Regions from separate parts of the Homo sapiens genome. Here region 2 is linked to region 1. The links come from fine-mapping of genetic effects on gene expression. A gene starts in region 1. The other region holds a variant in brackets. All regions are shown on one strand. Distances are from middle to middle.

Region 1 (5,216 bases):
GCTCATTCTCAGACACTTCCTGCACTGCTTCCTCCAAACCCCAGGGCCCCACATTTCCTAACCCCTCTCCTCTGGAACAGGCCACGTCACTCATCCCAACCATCCCTCCCAAAAGTCCCTCCGTGCCTTGTCACACCCCTGCCTGAATCTGGAACCTCACCGATGAGCCCGCCCCTTCCCCCAGCTTCCCCCTCCTCCCTTAGAGTCCTCAACTCAGGAACATGTCGGAGCCACATCCGTTCTCCCAAATCCACCCTCAACTTTCTAACAAAGGAGGAAATGAAGCCGACGGTGCAGCAGGCAGGGTCGTGGAAACCTCCCAAGCGCCCTGTCACTCCCTGGTAGGCAACCGAGCATAGCTCTGACGGCCCAAAGTCAGGGCCAGGGGCTGCTCCACCCTGGAGTGGCAGAAGCGCATGTTGCCAAGGCAAATGGGCTTGCGGAAATACCAGCGACTCTCAATTATTCAAGCCCTCATTATCCAGTCTTCCTGACTCTTCCACTTCCCAGGAGACCACACAGAAGCCGCTAAACCCTTCCCAATCCAGCCTGTCCCTCAATTCCTGTGCCTAGATCCAAGGAGGGTTTGTGGCCCTCTGTTTGCCAGGCACCCCAACCCTGAGAACCGAGGCAGGGCGCCCAGCTCACCCCCAGCGAAAGCAGCATCAGCAGTGCCCGGCGTCCTGCTCCTCCTCCTGCCTCCACGCCCGTTCTATTCAGCACAGGATGCTTCCTGCTACCGGAATTCTTGGTGCATTTGAATTAAACCAGGCTGGGCCTGAATTTTCTAGACACACATCAATTCATACAGGCAAGGAGGAGAAGCACTGCGTACTTTGGAATTTGGGCCCAGTCCATTACTTTGGGTGTGTGTTCTTCCTATTCCGAGAGCGTAAACGGCACCTAGAAAAAGCTGCAATAGCCCAGAACATTCCGGTTCCTTGCCATTCTATGAAAGACTTTTTCCTCTGGTTCCTTCTGGCCTCCACTCAAGTGTCCCCTCCTCAGAGGCCTCCCCTGGCTCTGATCGCCCTGTTCTATGTGCTCCGGGGCACGTCATCACAGCGCCAGTTGTCTATGTATTCATTCCCCGTTCCACGAAAGCAAGCACCCCGCCCCCGCTCTTTTCTTCCTGGGGTCTAAGCAGCACCTGGCCCATGGCGGGCGCTCCACAGGCTGTGGGCTGAATTGGGAGGGGAGCGTCACTTGCGTCTATAATCGTTGCAAGCCATAAAGAGGAACCGAAATGATTTCTGGTGAGGGTGCTGATGACTGCATGGAAGAACAGTGGGGATGATAGAAGGGTGACAGCCACTAATCATGTCATTTAGGAGACGTGACCAACACCGACCAATACAAGCTACAGTGGGTCCTCCAGTGTAAGGCTTGAGAGAAGAGTGACCTATCCGCCAGGAGACCTACTGAAGGGGACAAGACCCTGCCCTCTTGGAACAGGATCACGGGTGGGAAGACACGCATCCCTGGGGGCACAGGCATCCCTGGGAGAAAATGTCTGGGGAACCAAGCGTTCCCTGCACTGTACAAAAATCCTGGGGAGCAGGTGCATGGGGGCACACACATGCCTAGAGGCAAATCTGTCATATGTCTTCCCGGGGCACACACATCCCTAGGAATACAAGAGTCCCAGGGAAGAAATGAATGGGGGACCTGCATCCCGGGGTACACTAATCCCTGGAGGCACAGGAAGAGTTCCCAGGGGATATGTCAGGCCCAGGTGGTTTAAGGAAACCGTACTGCATACCCGCTATGGGAGGGCTCCTTCCCGGGGACCCACCTGAGGCCGGCCTTTCTCCATCTGCCTTTCCACAGCAGCTCCCCTCACCTCTCACCAATCCGAAATCTCACTATAGGGCATGGTCCCGGGGCAGAACCTCCCCACCCAAGCAGAAAATTCCAGAATGTATCTCCCAGGAGGCCCTGGGCAAGCGGTACACTTAAAGACACCAGACTATCCCTTGCAACTCTAACAATCTTTAAAACGTACGAGGTTGGTAGTGTTTCGTGAGCACACGCAGTAAAAAATTTAAAAAAAAAAATTTTTAATGGGATCTCTGCAATTCTTGCTCGCAGGCCTCCCAGGCCTCAGCCCTGCACGCCCTGAGCCCCGCACCCTGCAGGGCGCCCGCGCAACACCCAGTAGTGGGTCCCCCAGGCCGTGTCTGCCCAGAGTGCCCTGCACACGTGAGCGTCACTGCTCATGGAATGAACGGTCACCCCGCGCGGCTGGCTATGCCGCTGGCCCAGGGAAGAGCTGAACACCCGGCAGGCAGAGCAGGCGCGGGCCCCGCACGGTGGCCCGAGGTCCCCGCCGCGCAGGCGCCCGCACGCGCGTTTGGCAGACTCCGGAGGCCACCGCGGCCCCACGCGCCAGGTCCCGGCCGTTGTTTACGGGTCCTGGGTCAAAGGCCTGGCCTGTCCCGAAGGTCGCGCAGCCGCGTGGGCCGGGCGGGGTGCGTGGGGGAGGGCGGGGGCGGCCTCGTGGGGCTCTAGGGCCGAGGGCGGGCACCGCCGGGCAGGTCCCCGGGGGTCGGCGGGCGCGGGCGCGCACTCACCCTCGCGCGCCCTCCGCTTCCTGGCCAGGGTGCCGCCCAGCTTGCCCAGGAACGACTCGTCCTTCTTCATCCTGCGGGGCCGCGGGGTGGGCGAGCGCGGCGCGGAGGACATGGGCCGCGCGTGGGGCCGGCGGCGGGCGCAGCGCGTGTGGAGCCGCCCGGTCGCCCCGGGGAGAGGCCGAGGGCGCGGCCCCGCCGCCGGCCCCCGCCCCGGTCCCGCCCCCGCCCCTGGCCTGGAGCGCGGCCCCGGCGTCCCGGATGCCCGAGGCCTGCTGGTCCCGGCCAGAGCCGTCCCCGTCCCGCGCCGCCGCTCAAGCTCAGAGAAGGGGCGTGGGGCCACCCCGGGAGCGGCGCAGCCTTTTCCCTACGCGTTGGAGCCCTGGGCTCTGCTCGGCTCCGCTAGTGGTGCCGGATCCAGGCGACAGCGCGACAGACACCATTGCCACGTGGGTGCAGCCTCAGGACGTCCTGAAAGCCGGAGAGAATCAGGTCACACGAACGTGGCCGGTCTGTTGTTAAGCTTCTGCCAAGAGCCAGGCCCGGGGCAGGGGGAGCCCTTCAGAACTGGGAATTGTCCCTACCCACGGGAAGCTTAGAGGATGGAGGGCAATGCGGGGCACAGGTCATTGGCCTGACCTCCAAGGGGAGTTCCAGGAGTTGTTTCTGGAAGAGGCGACGGGGAGGCCCCAGGAAATGGCTTGCAGGCCGGTACCATGAGGTGAGCAGAAGAGCAGGCCCTGGGGACAGTGTGGGGTGCCAGGGAGGGGAGAGGAGGGGAGACAGGCCTCGCATGTGTTGGAAGCAGAGGAAACGGCTTCATCCCGAGGACTGCCAGACAGGGCTATTTTTATTTTATTTTATTTTATTTTATTTTATTTTATTTTATTTTATTTTATTTTATTTTATTTTATTTTGTTTTGTTTTATTTTATTTTATTTTTTTAGACGTAGTCTTGCTTTGTTGCCCAGGCTGGAGTGCAGTGGCACAATCTCGGCTCACTGCAACCTCCACCTCCTGAGTTAAAGCGATTCTCCTGTCTCAGCCTCCTGAGTAGCTGGGATTACAGGTGCACGCCACCACGACCGGGTAATTTTTGTATTTTTAGTAGAGATGCGGTTTTGCCATGTTGGCCAGGCTGGTCTCGAACCCCTGACCTCAGGTGATCCGCCTGCCTCGGCCTCCCAAAGTGCTGGGATTATAGGTGTGAGCCACCATGCCCAGCCTAGATACCCAGGCAGGGCTTTGAGCTGTGATGTCACAGATGTTGCCTCTGGCTGATGGCTGCTCAGCAGGTGCTGGAGACAGAGAAGGCACAGGCAGGCGGACGGTGACTTAGGAGAAAAGCAAACAGATTTCTGAGATGCTCACAGCCAGAAGCCCCAGCCTTGAAGAAGTAGGAGGAGTAGGCCAGGTGCAGTGGCTCGCACCTGTAATCCCAACACTTTGGGAGGCCAAAGCAGGCAGATCACCTGAGGTCAAGAGTTCAAGACCAGCCTGGCCAACATGGTGAAACCCCATCTCTACTAAAAATACAAAAATTATCGGGGCATGGTGGTGGATGCCTGTAATCCCTGCTACTTGGGAGGCTGAGGCACAAGGATCGCTTGAACTCGGGAGGTGGAAGTTGCAGTGGGCAGAGATCATGCTACTGCACTCCAGCCTGGGTGACAGAGCGAGACTCTGTCTCCAAAAATAAAAAAAAAATAAAAAATAAAAAAAAAGAAGTAGGAGGAGTGAAGGCTGGGTGTCCTGCCAGGCCATGGTGGATCACTCAGCAGAGGACGGCACCTGGGGAGAAGTGGGTTCAGCTCTGGGTGTGTGGGTTGAGATGGTTTTTCTGTCTCCCTTTGTGCTGGCTGCCCCCCAGTCCCCCCAGTGCAGTACATGTTTCTGTTGGTCAAGTTGGTGCCAGGCCCAGTCCTCAGCCAGGGGCGTGAAGACCAAGGGCACAGAGCTTTGTCCTCCAGGAGTTTGTGGTCAAGGAGAACGTGGGCACAGGACACAGTGGCCGTGTAGCGTGGCCAGCATGGAGGAGGGACAGGGACCATGTGGATGGGGTGGGGGAGAAGTGCTGTGGGCAGAGGAGGCTTGCAGGGAAGGGACATTTGACCTGGAACAAGGATCAAATGCCCTTTTCCTTTCAGTAAAGGAGGAGAAGACCCACCAGGCAGAAGAGACAGGGAGAGGACACTGGGGTGTCTTGGGGCTGCCAGCACAAAGTTCCATGAGCTGGAGGGCTCAGAACAACAGAAACGTCTTCTCTCACAGTTTGGAGAGAAATAACAAGGTCTACGGGAATTATGAGGCAGGCACGGTGGAGGAAAACCAATTGATAAATATCATCATCTCACAAGGGTCTTTGCAGATGATCAAGTGAAGATGAAGTCACCAGAGTGGGCTGTAATCCAAGATGACCGTGTCCTTGTAATACCCCTGTGTACTGGGGATTAGGATTTCAGCAGGAGGCCAGAAATCCAAATCAAGGTGTAGGCTAGGTTCATTTCCATTTGGAGGCTGCACGGGCAAATCTGTTCCCTGCATCTCTCCAGGCTCCTGGGGTTTGCCAGCAAATCTTCCATGTTCCTCGGCCTGTAGAAGCATTGCCCCGTCTCTGCCTCCGTCTCTACTAGGCCCTGTGTGTGT
Region 2 (5,476 bases), 150 kb before region 1:
CAAAGAGTGGGTTTCCACGGAAAACCTCACTAATTCTGAGCTGCCCAACCCCAGGGCACTGTCCTTGCGGAAGGAACAGAGATGCCCGTCCCTGCGGTGGCCGGGGATTCCTGCCTGGGTAAGGATGAACAGAGGTGACCTCAGAAGGTCCCTTCCTTCTCGAGATTCTCAGATTCTGCCAGTTCTGTCACATCTGAGGGCAAGTGGCCGTGCAATGTCAGTTCCCCCAGAGACTGGCCACCAGGAAAGGAGGGGCCCTGTCCTAAGCAGAGAGCCCCCTCCCCACCACGGCCCCCTGGGGAGGTGACGGCTGAATTGGGGGGCCTTTCTGGGGACATGCAGCTCACACCAGTGCATTGGCCTGAAAGAATGGGACAGAAGCAATGTTTTTTGTTTTTGAGACCGAGTTTCCCTCTTGTTGCCTAGGCTGGAATACAATGGTGCAGTCTCAGCTTACTGAAACCTCCGCCTCCTGGGTTCAAGTGATTCTCTTGCCTCAGCCTCCCTAGTAGCTGGGATTACAGGTGCCTGGCACCACGCCCAGCTAATTTTTTTATATTTAGTAGAGATAGGGTTTCACCATGTTAGCCAGGCTGGTCTTGAACTCCTGACCTCAGGTGATCCACCTGCCTCAGTCTCCCAAAGTGCTGGGATGACAGGCATAAGCCACTGTGCCCGGACGGCAGTTATATTTGAGAACAAGTGAGAAAGGTCGGAGAATCAGGTCAGGCTAAGAGCATCTTCAGAACCATCCTATATCACCTACACTTTTCTTTTTTGTTTTTGAGGCAGAGTCTCACTCTGTTACCCAGGCTGGAGTGCAGTGGGGTGATCTCGGCTCAATGCAACCTCCGCCTCCCAGGTTCAAGTGATTCTCATGCCTTAGACTCCCGAGTAGCTGGGATTACAGGTGTGCGCCACCATGCCCAGCTAATTTTTATTTTTTGTGGGTTTTTTTTTTTGTTTGTTTGTTTTTAGCGGAGACAGGGTTTTGTCATGTTGGCCAGGCTGGTCTTGAACTCCTAGCCTCAAGTGATCAGCCCACCTCGGCCTCCCAAAGTGCTGGGATTACAGGCATGAGCCAGAGCCCACTAGGCTCAGCCCAAAACCAATTTTTATAATAGACAAAGAATTAAAGCCACCTGGATTAGTCCCTACTCCGGTGCACCTGAAGCACTCAGGTCCTGTTCCTTCTCGAAGACTGGCTTCCACCACACCATCTCCAGGCTTCAGCTGTCCCTCTCCAGACAGGTAACCACCCCCCTGCCCCACCTGCACCCTTCCTTTCTGGGAGTTCCCTCTCACTCCCCTGCCCCACCCGCACCCCTCCTTTCTGGGCATTTTCTCTCACTCCACCAGCTCAAGGGCAGGGGACGCTCTTCTCACTGGCCACTTGCCCCAGCCTTGGACAAACCAGACCCTTGGTAAACGACTGCTGAACAGAACCAATCGGAAGATCCCCAGAAGGTTCTGCACCATTGCTGGCCTTGAAAACTCGGCATTTCAGTGGAAAATATTTTATCCTCATCAATAGTAACAGTTGAGTCCTACCCAATAAAAGTGCAGGCGAAGACAGGCCAGCTCAAGGACCTGGCACTCTACTGCAGGGCTTCCCAACCTCAGCACAGTGCACAGGGGGGCCCGGTGATTCTTTGCTGGGGAGAAGGGAGCCTGTCCCGTGCACTGTGGGATGTTAAGCTGTAACCCGGGCCCCACCAGCTACCTGCCCAGAACCCAAACTGTCTCCAGACATTGCCAAAGATCCCCCAAGGGGCAGAACCTCCCTCTCTGCTGACAATGGCTGACTTTGAAAGAAGGAGGTTGAATTTGTCCCTCAGAACCCTCAGCTGGAAGGTGTGGATTACTTCGCTCCCCGCAGTCACGGTCACACAGTGACAAACCTGGACACAAACCCAGGCACTTCTCCAAAGCCCAGATTCCTTCCATCCACAGTTTATAATTTTTAGCTTATTTTTTTTTAATAGCGTGGTTGCCTTTCTCTCCAGGCTACCCATCCTGGACTAGTCACAATTTTATCATCATTTCGTAAAATTCGACGCACCTGAAACCTGCTATGACCTGTGCCAAGGAGAGTTTATGGCAGGGCCAGCACGGAGGGCAGGCCACCATCTCCGCCACACAGGGGTTCCTTGCCTTTCAGAGTCAACAGCGGTCACTTACTGGTCAGCATGCAAGG[C/T]CCAGTGACGTCACATCATGAAAAGTAAGGAGACCACCTCCATGTGTCATGCAGCCTGTGCTCCTGGCCGCTAGCTTTGTGCACGTATGGTCTGGACCCAGGCAGAGGGGCAGATGAGCCTTTATTACTCACCTGCAGCTGTGACTCTGCTGCCCTCTTCTCCTTGTGGTCCCAGCAGAAGTTTGGGGTTCCCAAAGTCCCATCCCCCACAAAGGGCTGTGAACCAGCTCTTCCCCCAGCTCCTGTCCAATTGGAAGGTCCCGGGAAGCAGCGCTGGGTGGAGTCACAACGCCCTGGCACCTGTTCCTTCGCTGGCACCATCCATGACTGCTAAATGCATGAAAGATTAAAACAGCAGCCAAACAAAGACGGTGGACAGGCCCATGCTCACGAGGTCTTTATTGGAATAAATAACAGCATACTGTGACGCCACGTGGCATTGTCCTAACCGCATCCCTGGCGGAAGAAGTGTTTGCCCGGTGTTGCAGTGAGCTCCTGAAAAGCGCTTGCTTCCTGCACTCAGCCAGGTGGGCCTGACAAACAGCATGGCCAGGGTTTTCGTGGCTTTTATATAACATCCAGAAATCCAAAGTAAACATTGCTTAAAACAATTAAGAAGACAGTAAAATACTGGCACACAAAACAGGGGGAAAGGATTCAGTTGCTTTAAAATAAAATTGCTCTTTGTCACCAAGACAATTAGGACACCACGGCCCAGCGGGACTCTGGGCTCGGTGCTTGCATAACACTGTGTGGGCGTCAAAGGGGAACTGAAGCTGCGGGAGGCTCCCCTAGCTGGTGTGGGTTGAGAGACACGTCACATGGAGAAGGAGAATCAGCAAATACCTTCCTGCCCTTGTCCGAGCGTCCACTTGGGCCTTGCAGGCCTGAGACCCCTTTGTGCTGGGACGTTTGTCCCCATGGGTGGACATACTTGGCCTTGCTTTCACTCAGTTCCTATGGACCAGGGTTCCTCTTCAAAGAACCATTCACTGAAAACGTGGTGCCGGGAGGAGGAAGGGTCCCAGAATTTCTCTGAACTAAGAACCAAGAGCAGCAGCAGACGGGGCATCTCACACCCAAGCCTCATGTCCCAGCAGCCATTCATCCCAAGCCTATAGGAATCGAGTTCACCCTGAATTCTGCCTTGGAACTGGCCCCTTGCTGCATCTGTCCAGGCCATGCTATGAATTCAGACTCAAACTGATGGTGAATGGAGAAAAATGAGGAGTCGAGCCTAATGGGGCCCTTCCCAGGTATGCAAAAGGCACACCTACACCTTTGAACCAATTGGAAAAGAATGTGGACAAAAGATCACATCCAAGCCGGGTGCGGTGGTGTGCACCTGCCGTTCCAGGGACTCAGGATACAGAAGTGGGTGGATCACTTGAGCCCAGGAGTTCAAGGCTGTAGTCTGTAGTCTGCTATGTGTGTGTCTGTGAATGACCACTGCACTCCAGCCTGGGCAACGCAGTGAGAACTTATCTCAAAAAAAAAAAAAAAAAAAATCACATCCTTTGCTGGAAACATCGCCTTTAAGGGTCCCTGTTGTGAAACACAAGTGCCCATGTAGCTTCCCCACAGATCTTATGATTCCTTTTACTGTTCGACTTGAAACCCACAAGAGTGTGACGTGGGCATGAGGATAGGCATGGGTTTACTGGTTTACTAGATGGGGGCCGCCAGGACCTCCCTGAGAAGCTGAAGCCCCCTCCCACAGTAACCGTCCTCTCCCCTCTGATGACACAGAATGGGCCAGGGCTGCTCATTTTGGCTGAAAATCACAGCTCTGTTCTTTTCTTTTTCTTTTTTCTTTCTTTTTTTTTTTTGAGACAGAGTCTCACTCTGTTGCTCAGGCTGGAGTGCAGTGGCATGATCTCAGCTCACTGCAACTTCCACCTCCTGGGTTCATGCAATTCTCCTGCCTCAGCCTCCCGAATAGCTGGGATTACAGGCATACATACCATGCATGGCTAATTTTTGTATTTTTAGTAGACATGGGGTTTCACCATGTTGGCCAGGCTGGTCTCGAACTTCTGACCCCAAGTGATCCACCTGCCTCAGCCTCCCAAAGTGCTGGGATTACAGGCGTGAGCCACCGCACCTGGCCAAGCTCTGTTCTTTTCAAATCCCAATCCCTGGGAAGGCACAGTGCCCTCTCCAGGTCCACCTGTGAGCAGGGCAAGGCTGGGCCACTCCACCAGCTCCAGGGGGCCGCGGTCCTGTACATGCCATGCAGGCAGCACAGAACGTTCCAGCCCCAGGCTTTTTGTCAGTGTGGCTTTTGAATGTCACTGCATCCCGCAAGAGACACCGTAATGCTGTTTTAATTATTTCTTTCCCCTGCTGGGAAATCACCTCCATCAAAATGGCTATTCTGAACCCATCCCCAGCCTAGCAACAGCCGGAACTGAGAGGGAATATTAAACTGTTTTCTAAAACTTCGGTGTTGGCATTCGATTTCATATCAAAACTTACTCCAAAGCTCTGATCTGCGGCAGGAAGACAAAAAGCTAACAAGATCAGAAAGGCCAGGCTCACTACGGAGAATGCTGAGAGATGCCAAGGAAGGGGGCTGCTTTGCAGCAGGTGCACCCCAGGGGGTCAGCGGGTCATCACCCTGGGAAGGAGCTGGGGGAGGGGGGGGCGCCACAGCGAGGGACTGACTGCGACCAGAGGCCAGCCCAGAAAGCATGGCCGATGGGATCCCCAGTTCTCTGCAGAGCTGGGGTGAGCGAGGGGGTGAACAACCCATAACTGAGTGAGCAGCGACTCCTTTTATAGGATACTCTAAGGGAGATGCTCTCAGGGCTACAGGGAGAGTAACATGAACACTTCATATCCTCCCGGTACAAGGCAAATTATGCCCCCCACAAATCCACATGCTGAAGTCCTAACCCCAGCACCTCTGATGTGATGGTATTTGGAGACAGGGTCTTTATGGAGGTAATCAAGATTAAATGAGGTCATATAAGTGGGCCCTAATCCAATAGGACCGCAGCCCTTCTAAAAAGAGGGGTGCAGGCTGGGCATGTCCGCTCATGCCTATAATCCCAGCACTTTGGGAGGCTGAGGTGGGTGGGTCGCTCAAGCCCAGGGGTTTGAGAACAGCCTGGGCAACATGGTGAAACCCCATCTCTACAAAAAATACAAAAATTAGATGGGCCTAGTGGTGTGCACTTGTGGTCCCCGCTACTTGGGAGGCTGAGGTGGGAGGATCAATTGAGCCTGGGAGATCAAGGCTGCAGTGAGCTGAGATGGCACCACTTTACTCCTGGG

What was found. PIP is the estimated chance that this variant, and not a neighbour inherited with it, causes the effect.
Region 2: its variant is fine-mapped to the expression of PARVB in whole blood (TOPMed, PIP above 0.99).

The regions. Positions count from the first base shown.
Region 1 is chr22:44,021,809-44,027,024 of GRCh38, reverse strand. It overlaps PARVB (parvin beta), which reads right to left and starts at 2,723. Exons shown (of 13, transcript NM_013327.5): 1 at 2,574-2,723. The coding sequence starts at 2,685. LOC124905131 (a long non-coding RNA gene) reads left to right here and starts at 4,250. Exons shown (of 2, transcript XR_007068125.1): 1 at 4,250-5,216. RefSeq lists enhancers at 1-55, 456-565, 1,066-1,115, 1,186-1,235, 1,276-1,355 and 1 more and silencers at 2,216-2,425, 2,476-2,525, 2,596-2,715, 2,746-2,855.
Region 2 is chr22:44,170,045-44,175,520 of GRCh38, reverse strand. PARVB (parvin beta) reads right to left here. Exons shown (of 13, transcript NM_013327.5): 13 at 2,582-5,476. It also overlaps a transcript of PARVG not described here. Among named protein-coding and RNA genes, the nearest start is that of PARVG, 8.1 kb to the left of the region's middle. RefSeq lists enhancers at 19-751, 2,849-2,898, 2,909-3,088, 4,903-5,424. The variant C/T (reference allele first, on the strand shown) is at 2,198.